3 linked regions of the Homo sapiens genome follow. The protein of the gene in region 3 interacts with the protein of the main gene of each other region in a biochemical or structural test. Each region holds a gene or a part of one and is shown on either strand. Other genes may lie near its edges. The genes, in order: NOTCH2, NOTCH3 and DLL1.

Region 1 (7,288 bases), on a different chromosome or scaffold from region 3:
AAGGCAAAGAACCAACTACTGTGGAGTTTACAAACATGAATAAGGGGTAAGAAATGACTCTTGTCACATGGCTTACAGTCCAGCTGTGTGGGCCACCACAGTTCATATCTTTCAGGATGGGGACTGGATGAGAGGAAAGTGGACTCAAAATTAATCCCAGTGCTCTCTACTTTCCCATATCCCTGTGCTTTATCTCTGTTGTAGTTATGTTATTTGTATGTTGGCCTGCCTCACTGCTCTGTGATCTCCAAAGAACAGGGACTGGGTTTTATTTATTTCTGCATTGCCGCAGAGCCTAGTATGTGCTTTGTAGAGAACAGGCTCTCAAAAAAATTTTAAATTAAAAGAATTTATTCACTTGTTTATGTTTCCTAGTTACAGTGGGTCAGCTTGTTCTGTGCTAACATGGAAGTGACAAGAAGCTGGTGTCCCTCTACACAGAGGTCCCCACACTAAATATCATCTTGGATGTGCTTCACATTGTTGCACAAAGGTACAGTGGAGTGAGACTGAGTAAGAGGACAGAAATAGTGGGGGGTTTGTCTCAGCTCACTAATTACTTATTTAACCTTGGGCAAGATACTTAAAGCTCTATCTCAGTTTCTTCATCTGCAAAATGGGTATAATAATGACTGGGGTGCCTATTTCCCACGATTGTTTTGAGGATCAAATGAGATAATATAATTAAAAGTGTTTTTGGAAGGTCTAAATCACTGCGCAACTGCAAGGCATTATTAAAAGAAATCTTCCTTTTAATTCCTGCTTCCACAAACATCTCATCACATATCCTTGGGTTCCTGGGTTACATGGAGAGATTCGTGGTGTAGCTCAATCTATGTGTCATAGCTATCCCACAATCTCTTCTTCAACTTCTCCAACACACCAAGACATTCTTCCAGTCTTGCATTGTTCCCCAGTTTATATAGATATATATGTTCCTCATTCAGCATTTATGTAAAACATATATTATTGAGCACTTATGTGATAGAAACCGAGGCAAAACAGAAAATAAAACAGAGTTTTATTTTGAGAGTTTTTTTTACAGCTTATCGGCTCTGAGAGGACAGACATGAGAACAAATAAGTGCCCAATTCTGCATTTATTTTGGAAGGCAGTTTTATGTGAGTTTAAATCAGTAAAGACATAGATGTATATTTTTAGTTTTGATTAAAACTAAAACAATTGGTAGCCCTTATTCATATTTTTCTATCATTAAAACTTATCTTTAAAAAATGTCTTCAGTCATATTTTTCCCTTACTTCCATTCATATTTACTCTTTACTTCTCTTGTCCTTACCAGAATGTATGCAGTAAGTTTTCATATTGTAACATATTCAACAAAAGTTATATGTGAACATAATAGCTGCTTTCTTTAAAACGGTTACTTTGAGAAACTGCATACCTATTTTTTTTTTTTTTTTTTTTTTGAGACGGAGTTTCACTCTTGTTGTCCAGGCTGGAGTACAGTGGCACGATCTTGGCTCACTGCAATCTCTGCCTCCTGGGTTCAAGTGATTCTACTGCCTCAGTCTCCTGAGTAGCTGGGATTACAGGTGCTCGCCACCATGCCCGGCTAATTTTTGGTATTTTTAGTAGAGACGGGTTTTCAACATGTTGGCCAGGCTGGTCTCAAACTCCTGACCTCAGGTGATCTGCCCACCTCAGCTTCCCAAAGTGCTGGGATTATGACATAAGCCGCCACGCCTGGCCTGCACATTTATTTTAATAATGTTGTCATAGCTACAGTCGCTTCTAGAGTTGCTCTTTGGGGATAACTATCTTATATTCTTCTGAATATATTTTAATAGTGACAAAACTTATCTTTGCAGGTGATTTTTAAAATTTGTATGCAGCCAAGTCACTATGAATTATCTTTAGTGAGTAAAGAGGAAGATCGAACTGGTAACACTGTGGGTAAACAACTGAAAAATAATGTTATCTTTCTCTGAACATACTTGCACAAGACAAATTCCAAAAATATTTTGACTACATTATTTTTGAAAAGGGTTTCCAGTATTTCAATGTGACTACTTTCACTAATGGTACTTGCTTACCTAAAGTGCTTGTTAACATGCAGTTTTGGAACTTCATAGGTCTATGCCCATACTGACTTGTACTTGCTTAGTGTTGTTTCACATTCTAGTTCAACATCTATTATGTGATAGACACTGGGGATTAATAGGCTGTGGTCTTTGCCCATGAGGACCTCAAAACTTAGTTGAGAACACAGAAATACAAAGAGTCCTGTGTGAAAAATAAGTATCGGTGTTAAGATAAAGAAGCGGCAGTGGAAGACAGTGGAGGGACTGTCTGTTAGGGGGAGGAATTTATTGCGGTGTCGGCAAAGCCTTCTTTGGACTGAAGGATGAATTATGATTAGAAGTTCATTAAGAGGAGGAGGGAAGGGGACTACAGGAGTCATTCCAAGCCAAAGGAACAAAAGATACAGGGACAGAAACAGCAAGATATGTTTGGGGGAATCTCAAGTTAGTCAATACTGTTATTGTGTGAAGTTCACAACAGGGGCAGGGAGGACAGGAGATGGGGCCCAATGACGAAAAGGCCTTGTATGTACCATGTTTAGAAGTTTGAATTTTATCCTATAGGAGTCAGGGAGAGGTTCTATGGGTAGGATTTCCCATCCCAACAGGATTGTAAACTCCCACATCCAATTAGTCACACCTCCATTTTTTTTTTCTGTTTCTTTAACATTGTCTCGGATTCATTCCTTCTGAAATCTACCTTATTAGTTCAGGTCTTCTTAAATTTGTGCCTGGACTGTTCACCAACTCTTGACTGGTCCTGGGGCTCCAGTTCACCTCTTGCTCCCCCAACAATCAATTTTCTACAGAATTATCAGAGCAATCTTCCTTTCCATCAATCTCAACTCTGTTCAAAAACTTTCAATAGTTTTATGTGACCTAAGAGGTAGCTGCCTCCCCACCCTTTCAGCTTGCCATTCAAGGCTGCATAATTTGGTCCCAACCCCCTTTCCGTCCTTGACTCCTCTCACTGCTAACAGAGACAGAACTCATTTACTTACTCTTTTGACTGTACCTTTGCTTTCACGAGGGCTCTTTCCTGGAATGATATGTCCATACAACTATTGTTGCTGTTCTTACTTTTAGCTCTTTTCTTAGAAGCCCACTTGTACCCAGGTTTGATCACACCCCCTACTCTCCTGCCCTGGAAGTAACTACTATTCTGGTTATAGTCTCTTAATATCTATATCTATATATATGCATCCACAGATAATGTGTAGTATTGTCTTGAAAAAAATATACATAAATGGTATACTTTGTCTCCCTCTGTGATTAGTTTTTTCACTATCATTTAGTTTTTAAGATTTATCCCTATTGACATAAATAGCTATAGTCTTTTCAATTACTGTGTTGCATTTCATTTTATAAATATACCATACATTATTCATCCATTCCTCTAAGGGTGGGCATTTATGTTGTTTTCAAGGTTTTGCTATTACAGTGTTACAACGAATATCCTTAGCTTAGCTGGTCTCCTTGTCTTATACAAATTTTACTGACCTTTCAAGATCCTGCTTTCATCCCAGCTCCTCTGGGAAAGCCTTCCCTGAATCCCCCAGCCCACAGCGGCAAAGTCTTGGTACTCAAAGTTGCTTGTGCATCTTTGGTATCATCCCACTGCCAAGCACACAGCTACGCAAAGTAAGGCACTTAAGAAATATTCGCTACACGGATGAACAAATGAATGAATGAATGGGGCAGCACCACTCCGTGATGGCTCTATTCCTTTTTAATGGACTTTGGCGCCTTGGCCCACTTTCCTTCTTTGACAGCACTGGTCCTACTCCAGAGCATTCCTCTAGCTAGCAAAGCAGTGTGTGGATGTGTGGGTGTAGGTGGCGATACAGACCTCACTGGATGAGGACCGCCTCTCCCTGCAAGTTCACGATCCCGGCAAACTCCAGTGCTTGAAGTTCAGAGTCCTACCCCACCCCCCTCACCCCCACGCCCCTTCTGCACTGGTCAAGCCAGCGAGCCGCTGCAGCCCTGATCGAGTTAAGGCGCGGCGGCCCCCGGGGCCGCTGGAGAAGGATGCGGACGGGGCCAGTGACTCGTAGTAGATCCCTCCGCGCGGAGCTCGGGCCGGCGCTTCTTCCTGCGGGAAACCCCTGGGTGCCCAAGGCGGCGGGGCCGAGGCCGCGGCGACAGTGGGGCGGGGCTTGCGGTGGGAGGAGGCGGCTGAGGCGGAAGGACACACGAGGCTGCTTCGTTGCACACCCGAGAAAGTTTCAGCCAAACTTCGGGCGGCGGCTGAGGCGGCGGCCGAGGAGCGGCGGACTCGGGGCGCGGGGAGTCGAGGCATTTGCGCCTGGGCTTCGGAGCGTAGCGCCAGGGCCTGAGCCTTTGAAGCAGGAGGAGGGGAGGAGAGAGTGGGGCTCCTCTATCGGGACCCCCTCCCCATGTGGATCTGCCCAGGCGGCGGCGGCGGCGGCGGAGGAGGAGGCGACCGAGAAGATGCCCGCCCTGCGCCCCGCTCTGCTGTGGGCGCTGCTGGCGCTCTGGCTGTGCTGCGCGGCCCCCGCGCATGGTGAGTATCGGGCTGAGGGGCGCTGTCCGCGGCGCCCGGGGCTGCCACCTGGGGCGACCCTTCTCCCCCTCGGTCCTTCTCTGTGTGGGAAGGCCAGGCTCGGCCGCCGGCGCGGAGCGAGGCCACTCGCTGGGTTCCCAAGAGTTTGGACATCGCCGGGGGCCCCTCCCGTGGTGCCCCGCCAACCGCCGGGGTTCCCCGCCGCCTCTGCTCCCCGCGGCCCGGGACCCCTTACACGCCTCCTCGGCAGGAGGGAGGCCGGCAGCAAGTCTCAGAAACTCCTTTTTCGTAGTGCCAGGGTGCAGGGAGGTGGGCAGTTTTGCCCTTCAGGTTCCGCGTTTCTTGGGGTCGAGCGAGAGCCGACGGCGGGCCTCGGAGGGGCTGAGCGAAGGAATGCCAGATTCTGGCGTGGAGAGCGGGGGCAGGGCCGCCAAGCCAAACGGCCTGCACCGTCGCAGCCAGCCTCGCCTTTGCCAGGGGGCGGCACATGGGCCGGGTGTGTGGGCTTGGTTTGGATGGGGACGGGGTTTTGCGGCGCGCCTGAGTTTTGACACTCCAACCCCACCGAAAGTCCGGGGGAGCCGTGTGTGCTGCTCGCGTCTTTGAAAGGTGGAGGCAGGAGAAGTAGGGCAACTGGTGTGGCTGCATGCTGAGGCACATGATTTAAAAATCTCAACTGCTGTTATTCTTTCCGAGGCGCGGAGCTCTGCTGCTGTTTCAGGCTGTGTCCAGACCCAGGAATGTGGTGTGACGATCACCAATTCCTCCAACCTGGCAGCAGCATTTGCTGCTCCTTTGGCATGGCTGGGGGTGGGGCACGGGCGGGTGAGAAAAAGTGGATACGTTAATTCAAAGGGCTTCCTTAGAAAGCTTCTTTATGGTTGGATGTTTCTAACACGGTTGGACCAAGGAAAGGGAATCAAATCATATCTTCCCCATCCCACCCACACTTTTAGATTCTACATTTCTTCAGACCCTTTAGTGGAAATAACTTGGGCTTTGGAGCCCTGCTCTGTAATCCTGGATTCAAATCCAGCTCTGCTATATGAACTCACCAATAAAATGGGAAAGAAATTATCCAGCTAATAGGATTAATTAAAATAATGTATATTAAACGGATGACACTCCAAAGGTGTTCAGAAAGTCCTTTCAGGGCCGAGGCTGTGTTTTACTGCTTCTGAGATTGATGCTCCCAGTGGGATGCTGTCTTGTGCATATTTGTTGAACGGAAAGCAGCCCCTTCTTTTTCTGAGCCTAATCTGAATAAAGATTTTTACCTTCACCAAAAAACTAGTACATGAACTACATCTGTTTTCAAAGAAAAGGTTAGGAAGATGATGAGCTTCAGAAAAATATGGTCTTTGTTCATTGTTAACAGTCAGTCGACATGTCAATCGCAGATGTTTAAAAAGAGAACAAGGTTATTTATCACCCGAAAATAGTACTGGGTTGTTCAGCACCAACTAGATACTTCTTGGAAAGTTCAAATTTCGTACACGTCTAGGTCACTAAGAATTTCAGAAGTGGACCAGGAGGCTTTGTAGTGATGAAGCAGAGCCGTTGTTTCTGAAGCATTTAATAAAGAGCATATATGATGGTGTTTTTGCTTTTCCTTTTTCTTTGAGTGAAAGCTTTAAGTGTAGCTTTAGGATAGAGAGGAGTATGATCAATGAGACAGTCTGAGGGTAATAATCCTTGGTCTATCATTAACTTGTTTTGGTAAATAACTTAATCTTCATGATATGTAGTCTCCTCACCTATGAAGCAGGACTAAAGGAATAACCTGCTTTAGAGAATTGTAGGGAATAATAAATATAATTGTAAAGTGATTTGAAAAATTAAGTATTAAATAATATGATATCAGAAATGGGATTACTCTGACACATAGGGCTTCTTTTATTATAGGATCTCAGTGCATAAAACTATGCCCTCCACCTCTGCTCTGCTGAGGTGCTGCGATTATTAGCTAGCTTTTAGGTAGTCAAGTTGAGTGTTAGTCAAGTTGACTCAAAGGATAGGATTTAGATATTTTGATTTTTAGACAGGTGTTCTTTAGATGCTAAACTAATGCAGTAGAAGAGATTTAGAAGCCGTTTCTCGGTACAAATCTTAAATCTTCTTAGAGTCTACAGTGAAGGCTTCTTGAATCCTCTTAATTTATTATTGTGTTTTGCTAAGGTACCAGTTGCAGCACACCCTTCTAAACTTTTGAGTGTTCCTGTGTTTGGCTTGTGGCCAATTGTTAATTTAAACATCACGGAGTTTCTAAGGCAAGGAGATGTTAGCAGTATGTCTGATTGTCTAAACAGCTATCCAGGACCATCCTCTTGCTCCTTGTTTTCTTTTGCTTTGCAATGGGAAGTGACTCCCTGATTTTGCTGCCTGCTAGATAATTTCTCAGCTGAATTCTTCTCTTGCTTAAACAAAATCGGAGTAATTTTCTTTCAGATGGTGATGAAATTTAACCTAAAACTATTTTTCCTTTCACTTTCTTATTATTCCTTTTTTTTTGGTGTGGTGGAGAGGAGGAGGAGAGTGATTCCTAGTCTCTCTTATTTTTCTGAATGTTTAGATTTAAAAAATATTTACCCATAACTTCTTGGGATCTCTCTGCTCCATTCCCACCCTACTGCCTCTCCTGTAGGCTTCTATGACATAGAGGAGCAACTTTTGGTTCACCTGGATTGTAGTTGCTGACTTCAGGACCTTTAGAGAATGT
Region 2 (4,576 bases), on a different chromosome or scaffold from region 3:
ATGGTGGTACATGCCTGTAGTCCCAGCTACTAGGGAGGCTGAGGCAGGAAAATCGCCTGAGCCCAGCAGGTAGAGGTTGCAGTGAACTGAGATTGTGCCAATGGACTCCAGCCTGGGTGACAGAACAAGACACTACCTCAAAAATAAATAAATGGATAAATAAAAACCACATGTGACTGACTACTGTATTGGATGTCACAACCCTAGGTTCAACTGAAGGAGGTCCACACAGCACCCCCTGTGTATAAACAGTCATGCACATGCACGCACACACACACACACACACAAACACACACACACAGACACAAAGTGCTTCCCCATTGCACAGAGTCATTTTGCAGATTTGCACACACATGGATCCAGACACAAGTACTTGGATATTCACGGCAGGCCTGCCTCCTCTACCCCTAGGCCACATTCTAGACAATTTCTGCCTCCCTGACATGGGGGCCCCAGGACAGGTGCCTGGTCCTGACCTCTCTCCCCTTCATCCTCCAGGGAAATCAGCCTTACACTGGGCTGCGGCTGTGAACAACGTGGAAGCCACTTTGGCCCTGCTCAAAAATGGAGCCAATAAGGACATGCAGGATAGCAAGGTGAGCCCCAGCCCTTGGTCCACTGGGTGTCAGCAGTGGCACAGTGCCATTGCAATCCAGCCTGGGCAACAGAGTGAGACTCTCTCAAAAAACAAAACAAAATAAAACCCCAAACATTGGATTAAAATATAATTTACTTTGGTGACTAAAGTTTTTGGGGGCCCCTTAAATTTTGTGCCTAATGGCTGGGTGTGGTGGTTCATGCCTATAATCCCAGCACTTTGGGAGGTCGAGATGGGTGGATTACTTGAGTTCAGGAGTTTGAGACCAGCCTGGCCAACGTAGTAAAACCCTGTCTCTATTAAAAATACAAAAATTAGCTGGGCGTAGTGGTGCACACCTGTAGTCCCAGCTGCTCGGGAGGCTGAGGCAGGAGAATCGCTTGAACCCGGAAGGCTGAGGTTGCAGTGAACTGAAATGGCGCCACTGCACTCCAGCCTGGGCGACACAGTGAGACTCTGTCAAAAAAAAAAAAAAAAAAAGACAAGAAAAAAAAAGTTATGCCTAAGGTGAGTACCTCGCTTAACTCACCCTAGTCCTGGCCTTGACCTCTGGCACTTAGTAGGTGATGGATGAATGTGGTTTAGAGGAAAGAACTTGTCCAGGCTCCCCCAGCACAGCCGGGATTTAACCCAGGTCTGTCAAGCTCCAGTGTACAAACTCATAGCTCTCGGGCTCCCCCAAGAGGCTGGAAGACTTTGCTACTGTTAGCTGGGGTTTCGCTGACCTCTGTGGGTTCTGGCCCCCCAGGAGGAGACCCCCCTATTCCTGGCCGCCCGCGAGGGCAGCTATGAGGCTGCCAAGCTGCTGTTGGACCACTTTGCCAACCGTGAGATCACCGACCACCTGGACAGGCTGCCGCGGGACGTAGCCCAGGAGAGACTGCACCAGGACATCGTGCGCTTGCTGGATCAACCCAGTGGGCCCCGCAGCCCCCCCGGTCCCCACGGCCTGGGGCCTCTGCTCTGTCCTCCAGGGGCCTTCCTCCCTGGCCTCAAAGCGGCACAGTCGGGGTCCAAGAAGAGCAGGAGGCCCCCCGGGAAGGCGGGGCTGGGGCCGCAGGGGCCCCGGGGGCGGGGCAAGAAGCTGACGCTGGCCTGCCCGGGCCCCCTGGCTGACAGCTCGGTCACGCTGTCGCCCGTGGACTCGCTGGACTCCCCGCGGCCTTTCGGTGGGCCCCCTGCTTCCCCTGGTGGCTTCCCCCTTGAGGGGCCCTATGCAGCTGCCACTGCCACTGCAGTGTCTCTGGCACAGCTTGGTGGCCCAGGCCGGGCGGGTCTAGGGCGCCAGCCCCCTGGAGGATGTGTACTCAGCCTGGGCCTGCTGAACCCTGTGGCTGTGCCCCTCGATTGGGCCCGGCTGCCCCCACCTGCCCCTCCAGGCCCCTCGTTCCTGCTGCCACTGGCGCCGGGACCCCAGCTGCTCAACCCAGGGACCCCCGTCTCCCCGCAGGAGCGGCCCCCGCCTTACCTGGCAGTCCCAGGACATGGCGAGGAGTACCCGGCGGCTGGGGCACACAGCAGCCCCCCAAAGGCCCGCTTCCTGCGGGTTCCCAGTGAGCACCCTTACCTGACCCCATCCCCCGAATCCCCTGAGCACTGGGCCAGCCCCTCACCTCCCTCCCTCTCAGACTGGTCCGAATCCACGCCTAGCCCAGCCACTGCCACTGGGGCCATGGCCACCACCACTGGGGCACTGCCTGCCCAGCCACTTCCCTTGTCTGTTCCCAGCTCCCTTGCTCAGGCCCAGACCCAGCTGGGGCCCCAGCCGGAAGTTACCCCCAAGAGGCAAGTGTTGGCCTGAGACGCTCGTCAGTTCTTAGATCTTGGGGGCCTAAAGAGACCCCCGTCCTGCCTCCTTTCTTTCTCTGTCTCTTCCTTCCTTTTAGTCTTTTTCATCCTCTTCTCTTTCCACCAACCCTCCTGCATCCTTGCCTTGCAGCGTGACCGAGATAGGTCATCAGCCCAGGGCTTCAGTCTTCCTTTATTTATAATGGGTGGGGGCTACCACCCACCCTCTCAGTCTTGTGAAGAGTCTGGGACCTCCTTCTTCCCCACTTCTCTCTTCCCTCATTCCTTTCTCTCTCCTTCTGGCCTCTCATTTCCTTACACTCTGACATGAATGAATTATTATTATTTTTATTTTTCTTTTTTTTTTTACATTTTGTATAGAAACAAATTCATTTAAACAAACTTATTATTATTATTTTTTACAAAATATATATATGGAGATGCTCCCTCCCCCTGTGAACCCCCCAGTGCCCCCGTGGGGCTGAGTCTGTGGGCCCATTCGGCCAAGCTGGATTCTGTGTACCTAGTACACAGGCATGACTGGGATCCCGTGTACCGAGTACACGACCCAGGTATGTACCAAGTAGGCACCCTTGGGCGCACCCACTGGGGCCAGGGGTCGGGGGAGTGTTGGGAGCCTCCTCCCCACCCCACCTCCCTCACTTCACTGCATTCCAGATGGGACATGTTCCATAGCCTTGCTGGGGAAGGGCCCACTGCCAACTCCCTCTGCCCCAGCCCCACCCTTGGCCATCTCCCTTTGGGAACTAGGGGGCTGCTGGTGGGAAATGGGAGCCAGGGCAGATGTATGCATTCCTTTGTGTCCCTGTAAATGTGGGACTACAAGAAGAGGAGCTGCCTGAGTGGTACTTTCTCTTCCTGGTAATCCTCTGGCCCAGCCTCATGGCAGAATAGAGGTATTTTTAGGCTATTTTTGTAATATGGCTTCTGGTCAAAATCCCTGTGTAGCTGAATTCCCAAGCCCTGCATTGTACAGCCCCCCACTCCCCTCACCACCTAATAAAGGAATAGTTAACACTCAGTGTTGTTGGTCTGTGTCTAGGTAAGGTGGGGAGTGGTGGCAGTGGGACTTCTATCTCCCCCACCCAGGGCTAACTTGAGCTCCCATCTTGGGGTAAATACATTTGACTTGCCAGTCTACTTATGCTTCCTCTTTTGGCAGATGACTACCGATTGGATTAGTGGTTGTCACCTGACTTAAGCTGAGCCAATCAGATTCTTTTGCTCGAGAACTTTCTTTAATGGAGAGGCTAAGAAAGTTGTCAGTTGGTGGAGCTCTTAAGGTCACAATCAGATTTAGAAATATCAGTGGCCAATTCGAGGTGGTGGGCAAAGAGACAAGCAAACAGGGCAGAAGAATGAAGCTAATATTCAGGGAGAATCAGAAATGAGAGCTCAAATGGCTCCTTGAGGGCTGGGGGGGTTATCTCGGCTCCCAGTGCAGTTATCAATTCCAGTTAATTGAGTGTTCATTCCATTGAGATCAACAGGTATTTATTAATTGCTTTCTAAGTATCTGATCATGGTTCTGCATGAATTTCACTTTTACTTCATGCTCCTATGGGTTTTGGAGATAACCTTGGACCCATGTAATAAATACTTCTTTACTTGTGCCAGCTTCGGTGGGTTTCTGTTACTCGCAACCAGTCGTGCTCCAAGACAAGGTTCTGTTTACACTGGTGTCTTCAGGAAAGGAGGATAGGATTTAATGTTCGTTGATTCTGTCAGTTGGAGTGCTCCTGGTTGCAAATGACACAAAAGTCTACTGGCTTAAACAAGAAAGGGGTTTATTAGCTCATATAAATTAAAAGGACCTACTTCAGGGGAGAATTGATCTAGTGGCTCAAATGTGGTCAACAATGGCTCAGTTTCTCTTCATCTCTACAGCTTTCTCTGGGCATCAGTTTCATCTACATGCTCCACATGGCACCCAGTAGAACCTCTCTTCCCGACATCACACAGCTCCAGCCTTCTCTCTGTGTTATCAAAATAGGTGCCATATTGCTCCTTCCAGGGAAGAGAGAAACTCCTAGTATTGTGATTGATTTTTCTTTTACTTTCTTCCTTTTTTTTTTTTTTTTTTTAAGATAGAGTCTTGTTCTTGTCACCCAGGCTGGAGTGCAATGGCACAATCTCGGCTCACTGCATCCCCCGCCTCCGGGTTCAAGC
Region 3 (6,491 bases):
GCGCAGGGACGGGGCTTCCTGAGCCACGGGGGGCTTGGGACTGTAGAGATGTTCTGGTGGGGAAACTGAGGCCCAGAGGACAGAAGTGGATTGCTATAAGTCACAGCTCGTCAGTGGGGGGGTTGGGGTCAACGCAGACATTTTAACATCCCAGGCTGTGTTTATCCACTATCGGAACTGCCTTTCTTAATCAGGGAGGATTTTAGAGACAGGGCCAGGGGTCAGGAAGTAAAGCCAGTGCTACCCCCAGGGTGTGTGTATTAGAGAGGGAGAGGAGGAAGGAAGGGAGGAACACAGAGAGAGCTTGTGTGTCAGGGGCACCATTTCAACCCGAGTTCCCAGTGCTGGAACAGCATCACACTGGGAAACGTTCCATTTTCTCTCTGGAGCTGGTGTGCTTGACCTCTCTGGAGCAAACGCCTTTCCGGATACTCCCTGTGACACGCACTGTCTATGCTGGCCAGAGAGCAGGCTTTCACTCCTGTGGGCTGCTGAGGCCAGGTCTCCAAGGCCTGTGTGGGCGAGGGGTGCACAGCCCCGTCTGGCTTGAATGCTCAGGCAGCACCTTGTCTGGAGAAGCAATGTCTTCCCAATAGTGACAGAGGCTCTACCTGCCTCTTATTAGGTATTGATGTGTCAATGTCATGGCAGGCAGGTGACTAGGGCAGGGTTGGGGCCGTGCTGGCTCCTGGTTCTGGCTCATGGGGACCTCAGGAGCCCTCTCTCCAGCTGACTGAGGCCTCGCCTGCACGCCTGGCCGTCCCAGCCCATTGGTACCGGATTTCTCTACAGCTGGGGATTGGGTAGGTCCTGGAGCTGCCCAGAAACTCCAGGGAACTGTCATTCTCCTTCCTTGGAACTGGACAACCTTGGAGAGGGGCTCTGGGAGGCCCAGAACCTCTGGCAGGAGCTGGGTAGTGCCTGGGGTTGAGGGTGGGTCTTCCCATTCACTGAGTGCCTTGATGTCCTTGCTCCTTAGCTTCCCAAATTCCCTCCGGAACTTACTGAGCTCCTTCTAAGCTTTGCCTTGGCCTGAACTGGTTCTGGGGAAAAACAAAAAAACAAAAAACAACTTGTGGAGCTGCTTGTTAATGAGTTTCATAACCAGGCAGCAAGAGCCAGCTCCAAGCCTCAAGCCCACTGTCTACTCCCTGCCCTGCGGGAGCCTCTGGCCAGTCTGCTGCCTCCCACCCTTCCTCCCTGCCTCTCTTCACCACAGGGTAGCCAGAAACTTAAACTTTTTTCTTCAAACACTGAAGTCTCTCCCCGCCCCCAGCTCGCGCGTGCCATAGATTAGATCTCTCCGGGGATAGGCGCAGGGACACCCGCCGGCTCCCATTGGCGGAAGGGGTGCGTGTGCGTGTGTGTGTGTGTGTGTGTGTGTACACGCGAGGGGTGTGTGTGAGGAGGTGGGGCCGGGGGCGCGGGGGAGGCCGGCATTGTTGCGCTGGGGCAGCTGCCGTGGAGGACAGACAATGGAGCAGCTGTCCTGCCCTGGCACCCTGCATACCAGCTGTCCACTCTTATCTGCACACACACTTTCTGGGATATTAAGAGGTGGAGCTTTGTGCACAGAATTGGGAAGTGGGGGAGGAGGAGGGGGAAGACTTCTGACCCTCTCTTAGAAGAAAAGGGGATAGGGTGGGGGTGGGGGCTTCCGAGAGCCCTTTTGTCCTTGAGCCCCTGTGTTAAGAAGAATGCTCATCCCCAGGGCTGAGTCAAGTCCCAGGCTACTAGGCAGGGGGGTCAGTCCTCCACAACCTGGGAAGATTAACTCAGCTGGGATTTGCTGACTGAAGCCGGCGAGTTGTGTCCTGGCCCCAAGGGCGGCAGCCCTGTTGGGACGTACTTGGCGTGGGGCTTGACCCTGTTTTTCCTTTGCTTGTAGCGATCTGCCTGCCTGGATGTGATGAGCAGCATGGATTTTGTGACAAACCAGGGGAATGCAAGTAAGTCTGCACAAGGTGGTGTTTTGTTTTGTTGCCTTTTCTTGTTATCTTTTCACAGCTGGTGTATTTGTAAAAACAGCCCTAGGTGATCATTCGAAAAACTCCAGTAAGATTGATTGAACAGGGGGCCGTTTTCTCATGTTTCTACTTAATCAATGTTTGGCAGCATGTAAGGTCATGGAGTTGTCATTCGTCTAAGCCCCTTAACGGCTATGAGAATTTACAGATAGTAGTTTAAAAAGAGTTGGCACAGGAAATGATAGTATAGTTCAATGGTTCTCAAATGTTGCCTCATCCTAGAATCACTCAGGGAGTGATTTTTGAGATGCTGACACTGGTGCTGCCCTAACACCCAAGAAGCCAGAACCTCTGGTGGGGCCCAGGCCCAGGCTGCAGCTCCCAAGGTGACCCAGTGTTCTGCTAATCTGGAGAACCAGAGGCTCACTGGTGCTGCGGGAAGATGGTTTCTAGGGTGAGAATGTCCACTGCAAAGCCAGCAACAGTCAACGTCCATCTGAGTCTTCTGCTTTTCTCCAAGGTGCAGAGTGGGCTGGCAGGGCCGGTACTGTGACGAGTGTATCCGCTATCCAGGCTGTCTCCATGGCACCTGCCAGCAGCCCTGGCAGTGCAACTGCCAGGAAGGCTGGGGGGGCCTTTTCTGCAACCAGGGTAAGCCTTCTCTCCCTGAGGCAGCCTGCTCCCTCCAGAGCAGCCCTGGACTTCCCTGGCTGTTTGATCACTGGAAAAATAAAGTCTTCCTGCATTTGATGTCGAGCTTCCTATCTCCTACTTTTCCTGTCCCCACCCTTCACAGACCTGAACTACTGCACACACCATAAGCCCTGCAAGAATGGAGCCACCTGCACCAACACGGGCCAGGGGAGCTACACTTGCTCTTGCCGGCCTGGGTACACAGGTGCCACCTGCGAGCTGGGGATTGACGAGTGTGACCCCAGCCCTTGTAAGAACGGAGGGAGCTGCACGGTGAGTCGGAGGCTCCATGGCATCTCACCCGGAAGCTGGGGTGCCCTGGTGTTGAATGGAGTGTGTGGGCTCCTTGGAGCAACTTTGGAAAGCCTTTTCTGACCTCTCCATCGTGTAGGATCTCGAGAACAGCTACTCCTGTACCTGCCCACCCGGCTTCTACGGCAAAATCTGTGAATTGAGTGCCATGACCTGTGCGGACGGCCCTTGCTTTAACGGGGGTCGGTGCTCAGACAGCCCCGATGGAGGGTACAGCTGCCGCTGCCCCGTGGGCTACTCCGGCTTCAACTGTGAGAAGAAAATTGACTACTGCAGCTCTTCACCCTGTTCTAATGGTAAGGGGGCAGCTGGTGATTGCTCAGAGACTCGGGCGAGCGGTCAATACTGAGGTGGCATTAAAAACAAGCATTTGTGAGTGACCTCGAGTTTATGAATCACTTTTATCCAGACCGCCAGGAATTCTCGATGGAAACTCTATCTTTGAGTCTGGAAAGGCCTGGGGAATGAGAGAGGCCAGGGCATTTGTTATGAAGTTCTCTGTGGAAACCTAGACCAAGCAGTGAATGACTTGCTCAGGGCCACAAGGTGCTTCGGGCACCTGCGGCCGCCTGAGGTTCAGTAAGTGATGCCCACAGGTGCCGGCCACTCCAGCTTGGGAGGATGGCCCAGCTGTGTGGCCACCCAGCACAGTAGTTGGGGGTGTCCCTGAGTGAGGACAGAGAGCCTCCTGCTAGCAGCGAGGGGCTGGCTGCCCAAAGGAGACACACAGCAAGGAGAGCTGGGCCCCAGATGTGCCGGAGCATTCCGGAATGGTCATCCTTCCCCTCCCTCCCTCCCCTGTTGTCAGTGCCTGCTCCTCTCACTTGCTGTGTAACTGTGGGCAAGGACACCCTCGTTAAGCCTCAGTTTCCCCATCTGAAACCTGGGTCGAGTGGCACATGCTCTTGCCCGGCTGTTGTGGCGACTAATGCAGCCACCAGAGTGTTCTGCACAGCGCCTGTCCAGATGCTGGCCGTGTGGTTTCTGACTTGTAGAGCTAGACCTGGACACCTCTCGTATTTGAGGTCCTAAACCATGTCACCTTGCGCTGTGGACTCATTCAGGCCACAGACTGTCTTTGGTTTGTCTGGTTTCTACAGTGTCAGACAGATAGATGCTTCAGAGTGACTTTTTGGTGAACAAACCTACGAGGAGACACGTGATGTTCATGTCCCTGTGTTCCAGGTGCCAAGTGTGTGGACCTCGGTGATGCCTACCTGTGCCGCTGCCAGGCCGGCTTCTCGGGGAGGCACTGTGACGACAACGTGGACGACTGCGCCTCCTCCCCGTGCGCCAACGGGGGCACCTGCCGGGATGGCGTGAACGACTTCTCCTGCACCTGCCCGCCTGGCTACACGGGCAGGAACTGCAGTGCCCCCGTCAGCAGGTGCGAGCACGCACCCTGCCACAATGGGGCCACCTGCCACGAGAGGGGCCACCGCTATGTGTGCGAGTGTGCCCGAGGCTACGGGGGTCCCAACTGCCAGTTCCTGCTCCCCGAGCTGCCCCCGGGCCCAGCGGTGGTGGACCTCACTGAGAAGCTAGAGGGCCAGGGCGGGCCATTCCCCTGGGTGGCCGTGTGCGCCGGGGTCATCCTTGTCCTCATGCTGCTGCTGGGCTGTGCCGCTGTGGTGGTCTGCGTCCGGCTGAGGCTGCAGAAGCACCGGCCCCCAGCCGACCCCTGCCGGGGGGAGACGGAGACCATGAACAACCTGGCCAACTGCCAGCGTGAGAAGGACATCTCAGTCAGCATCATCGGGGCCACGCAGATCAAGAACACCAACAAGAAGGCGGACTTCCACGGGGACCACAGCGCCGACAAGAATGGCTTCAAGGCCCGCTACCCAGCGGTGGACTATAACCTCGTGCAGGACCTCAAGGGTGACGACACCGCCGTCAGGGACGCGCACAGCAAGCGTGACACCAAGTGCCAGCCCCAGGGCTCCTCAGGGGAGGAGAAGGGGACCCCGACCACACTCAGGGGGTGCGTGCTGCGGGCCGGGCATCAGGAGGGGGTACCTGGGGGGTGTCTTCCTGGAACCACTGCTCCGTTTCTCTTCCCAAATGTTCTCATGCATTCATTGTGGATTTTCTCTATTTTCCTTTTAGTGGAGAAGCATCTGAAAGAAAAAGGCCGGACTCGGGCTGTTCAACTTCAAAAGACACCAAGTACCAGTCGGTGTACGTCATATCCGAGGAGAAGGATGAGTGCGTCATAGCAACTGAGGTCAGTGCAGGCAGCAGCCGCTCCCTCCTCCTCGGCATGGGAGCACCTGAAGCTGGAGCACGGGAATCGGTCTCAGGCTAACTTCCCATTTGTCTTGTGGCCCCCCAGGTGTAAAATGGAAGTGAGATGGCAAGACTCCCGTTTCTCTTAAAATAAGTAAAATTCCAAGGATATATGCCCCAACGAATGCTGCTGAAGAGGAGGGAGGCCTCGTGGACTGCTGCTGAGAAACCGAGTTCAGACCGAGCAGGTTCTCCTCCTGAGGTCCTCGACGCCTGCCGACAGCCTGTCGCGGCCCGGCCGCCTGCGGCACTGCCTTCCGTGACGTCGCCGTTGCACTATGGACAGTTGCTCTTAAGAGAATATATATTTAAATGGGTGAACTGAATTACGCATAAGAAGCATGCACTGCCTGAGTGTATATTTTGGATTCTTATGAGCCAGTCTTTTCTTGAATTAGAAACACAAACACTGCCTTTATTGTCCTTTTTGATACGAAGATGTGCTTTTTCTAGATGGAAAAGATGTGTGTTATTTTTTGGATTTGTAAAAATATTTTTCATGATATCTGTAAAGCTTGAGTATTTTGTGATGTTCGTTTTTTATAATTTAAATTTTGGTAAATATGTACAAAGGCACTTCGGGTCTATGTGACTATATTTTTTTGTATATAAATGTATTTATGGAATATTGTGCAAATGTTATTTGAGTTTTTTACTGTTTTGTTAATGAAGAAATTCCTTTTTAAAATATTTTTCCAAAATAAATTTTATGAATGACAACCAGAAGGCGTAGTTACTTGGCTTTGCCTTAGAGCGGAGGTGTGCTCACTCACCTGCGGCCCGCGAGGCTGAGGGCAGAGGTGGCCTTGGTGTTTCTCTTTTCAAGGCTTTGGTTTCCCTGGATCCATGAGAAGCAGCCCGTTCCTCTCCTCCCTCAGGAAGCTGCTTGCTGGCCATCATGAGGTGACTTGGTAAGAGCAGGCACGCGCATGAAGCAGCCGCGATTTTCTAATTCCATCCCCCCATGCATTTATTAGTTCTTTCCGCAGAAAGAATGAGCGTTCCTCATTCATTCATTCATTCATTCATTCATTCATTCATTCATGTCAGTGTAGACTTGTGAGTTATTTTGTACCCAGTGGGTCACAGCTGTCATGATTTTGTCGCCGTTTGACGCCAACATGGCCCCAGACGGGGCGTGGGAGTCACGGAAGCTGCTCCTCCGCTTCCCGTCGGTGGGCAGCCCCGTCTCTAAGCGCGTCCCGCCTGCTGGCTCAGCAGGACCGCACG

Evidence for each region.
Region 1: the proteins of DLL1 (region 3) and NOTCH2 form a complex in vitro, tested with the Homo sapiens proteins (one study listed by BioGRID).
Region 2: the proteins of DLL1 (region 3) and NOTCH3 form a complex in vitro, tested with the Homo sapiens proteins (one study listed by BioGRID).

Annotation. Positions count from the first base shown.
Region 1 is NC_000001.11:120,066,615-120,073,902, reverse strand, and holds the start of NOTCH2 (neurogenic locus notch homolog protein 2 isoform 1 preproprotein), read left to right. Parts: upstream 1-4,240; 5' UTR 4,241-4,496; coding exon 4,497-4,569; intron 4,570-7,288. UniProt on the Homo sapiens protein: Functions as a receptor for membrane-bound ligands Jagged-1 (JAG1), Jagged-2 (JAG2) and Delta-1 (DLL1) to regulate cell-fate determination.
Region 2 is NC_000019.10:15,158,485-15,163,060, reverse strand, and holds the end of NOTCH3 (neurogenic locus notch homolog protein 3 precursor), read left to right. Parts: intron 1-498; coding exon 499-596; intron 597-1,346; coding exon 1,347-2,399; 3' UTR 2,400-4,023; downstream 4,024-4,576. UniProt on the Homo sapiens protein: Functions as a receptor for membrane-bound ligands Jagged1, Jagged2 and Delta1 to regulate cell-fate determination.
Region 3 is NC_000006.12:170,281,696-170,288,186, reverse strand, and holds the end of DLL1 (delta-like protein 1 precursor), read left to right. Parts: intron 1-1,888; coding exon 1,889-1,949; intron 1,950-2,487; coding exon 2,488-2,618; intron 2,619-2,763; coding exon 2,764-2,933; intron 2,934-3,051; coding exon 3,052-3,268; intron 3,269-4,157; coding exon 4,158-4,956; intron 4,957-5,081; coding exon 5,082-5,199; intron 5,200-5,307; coding exon 5,308-5,313; 3' UTR 5,314-5,981; downstream 5,982-6,491. UniProt on the Homo sapiens protein: Transmembrane ligand protein of NOTCH1, NOTCH2 and NOTCH3 receptors that binds the extracellular domain (ECD) of Notch receptor in a cis and trans fashion manner.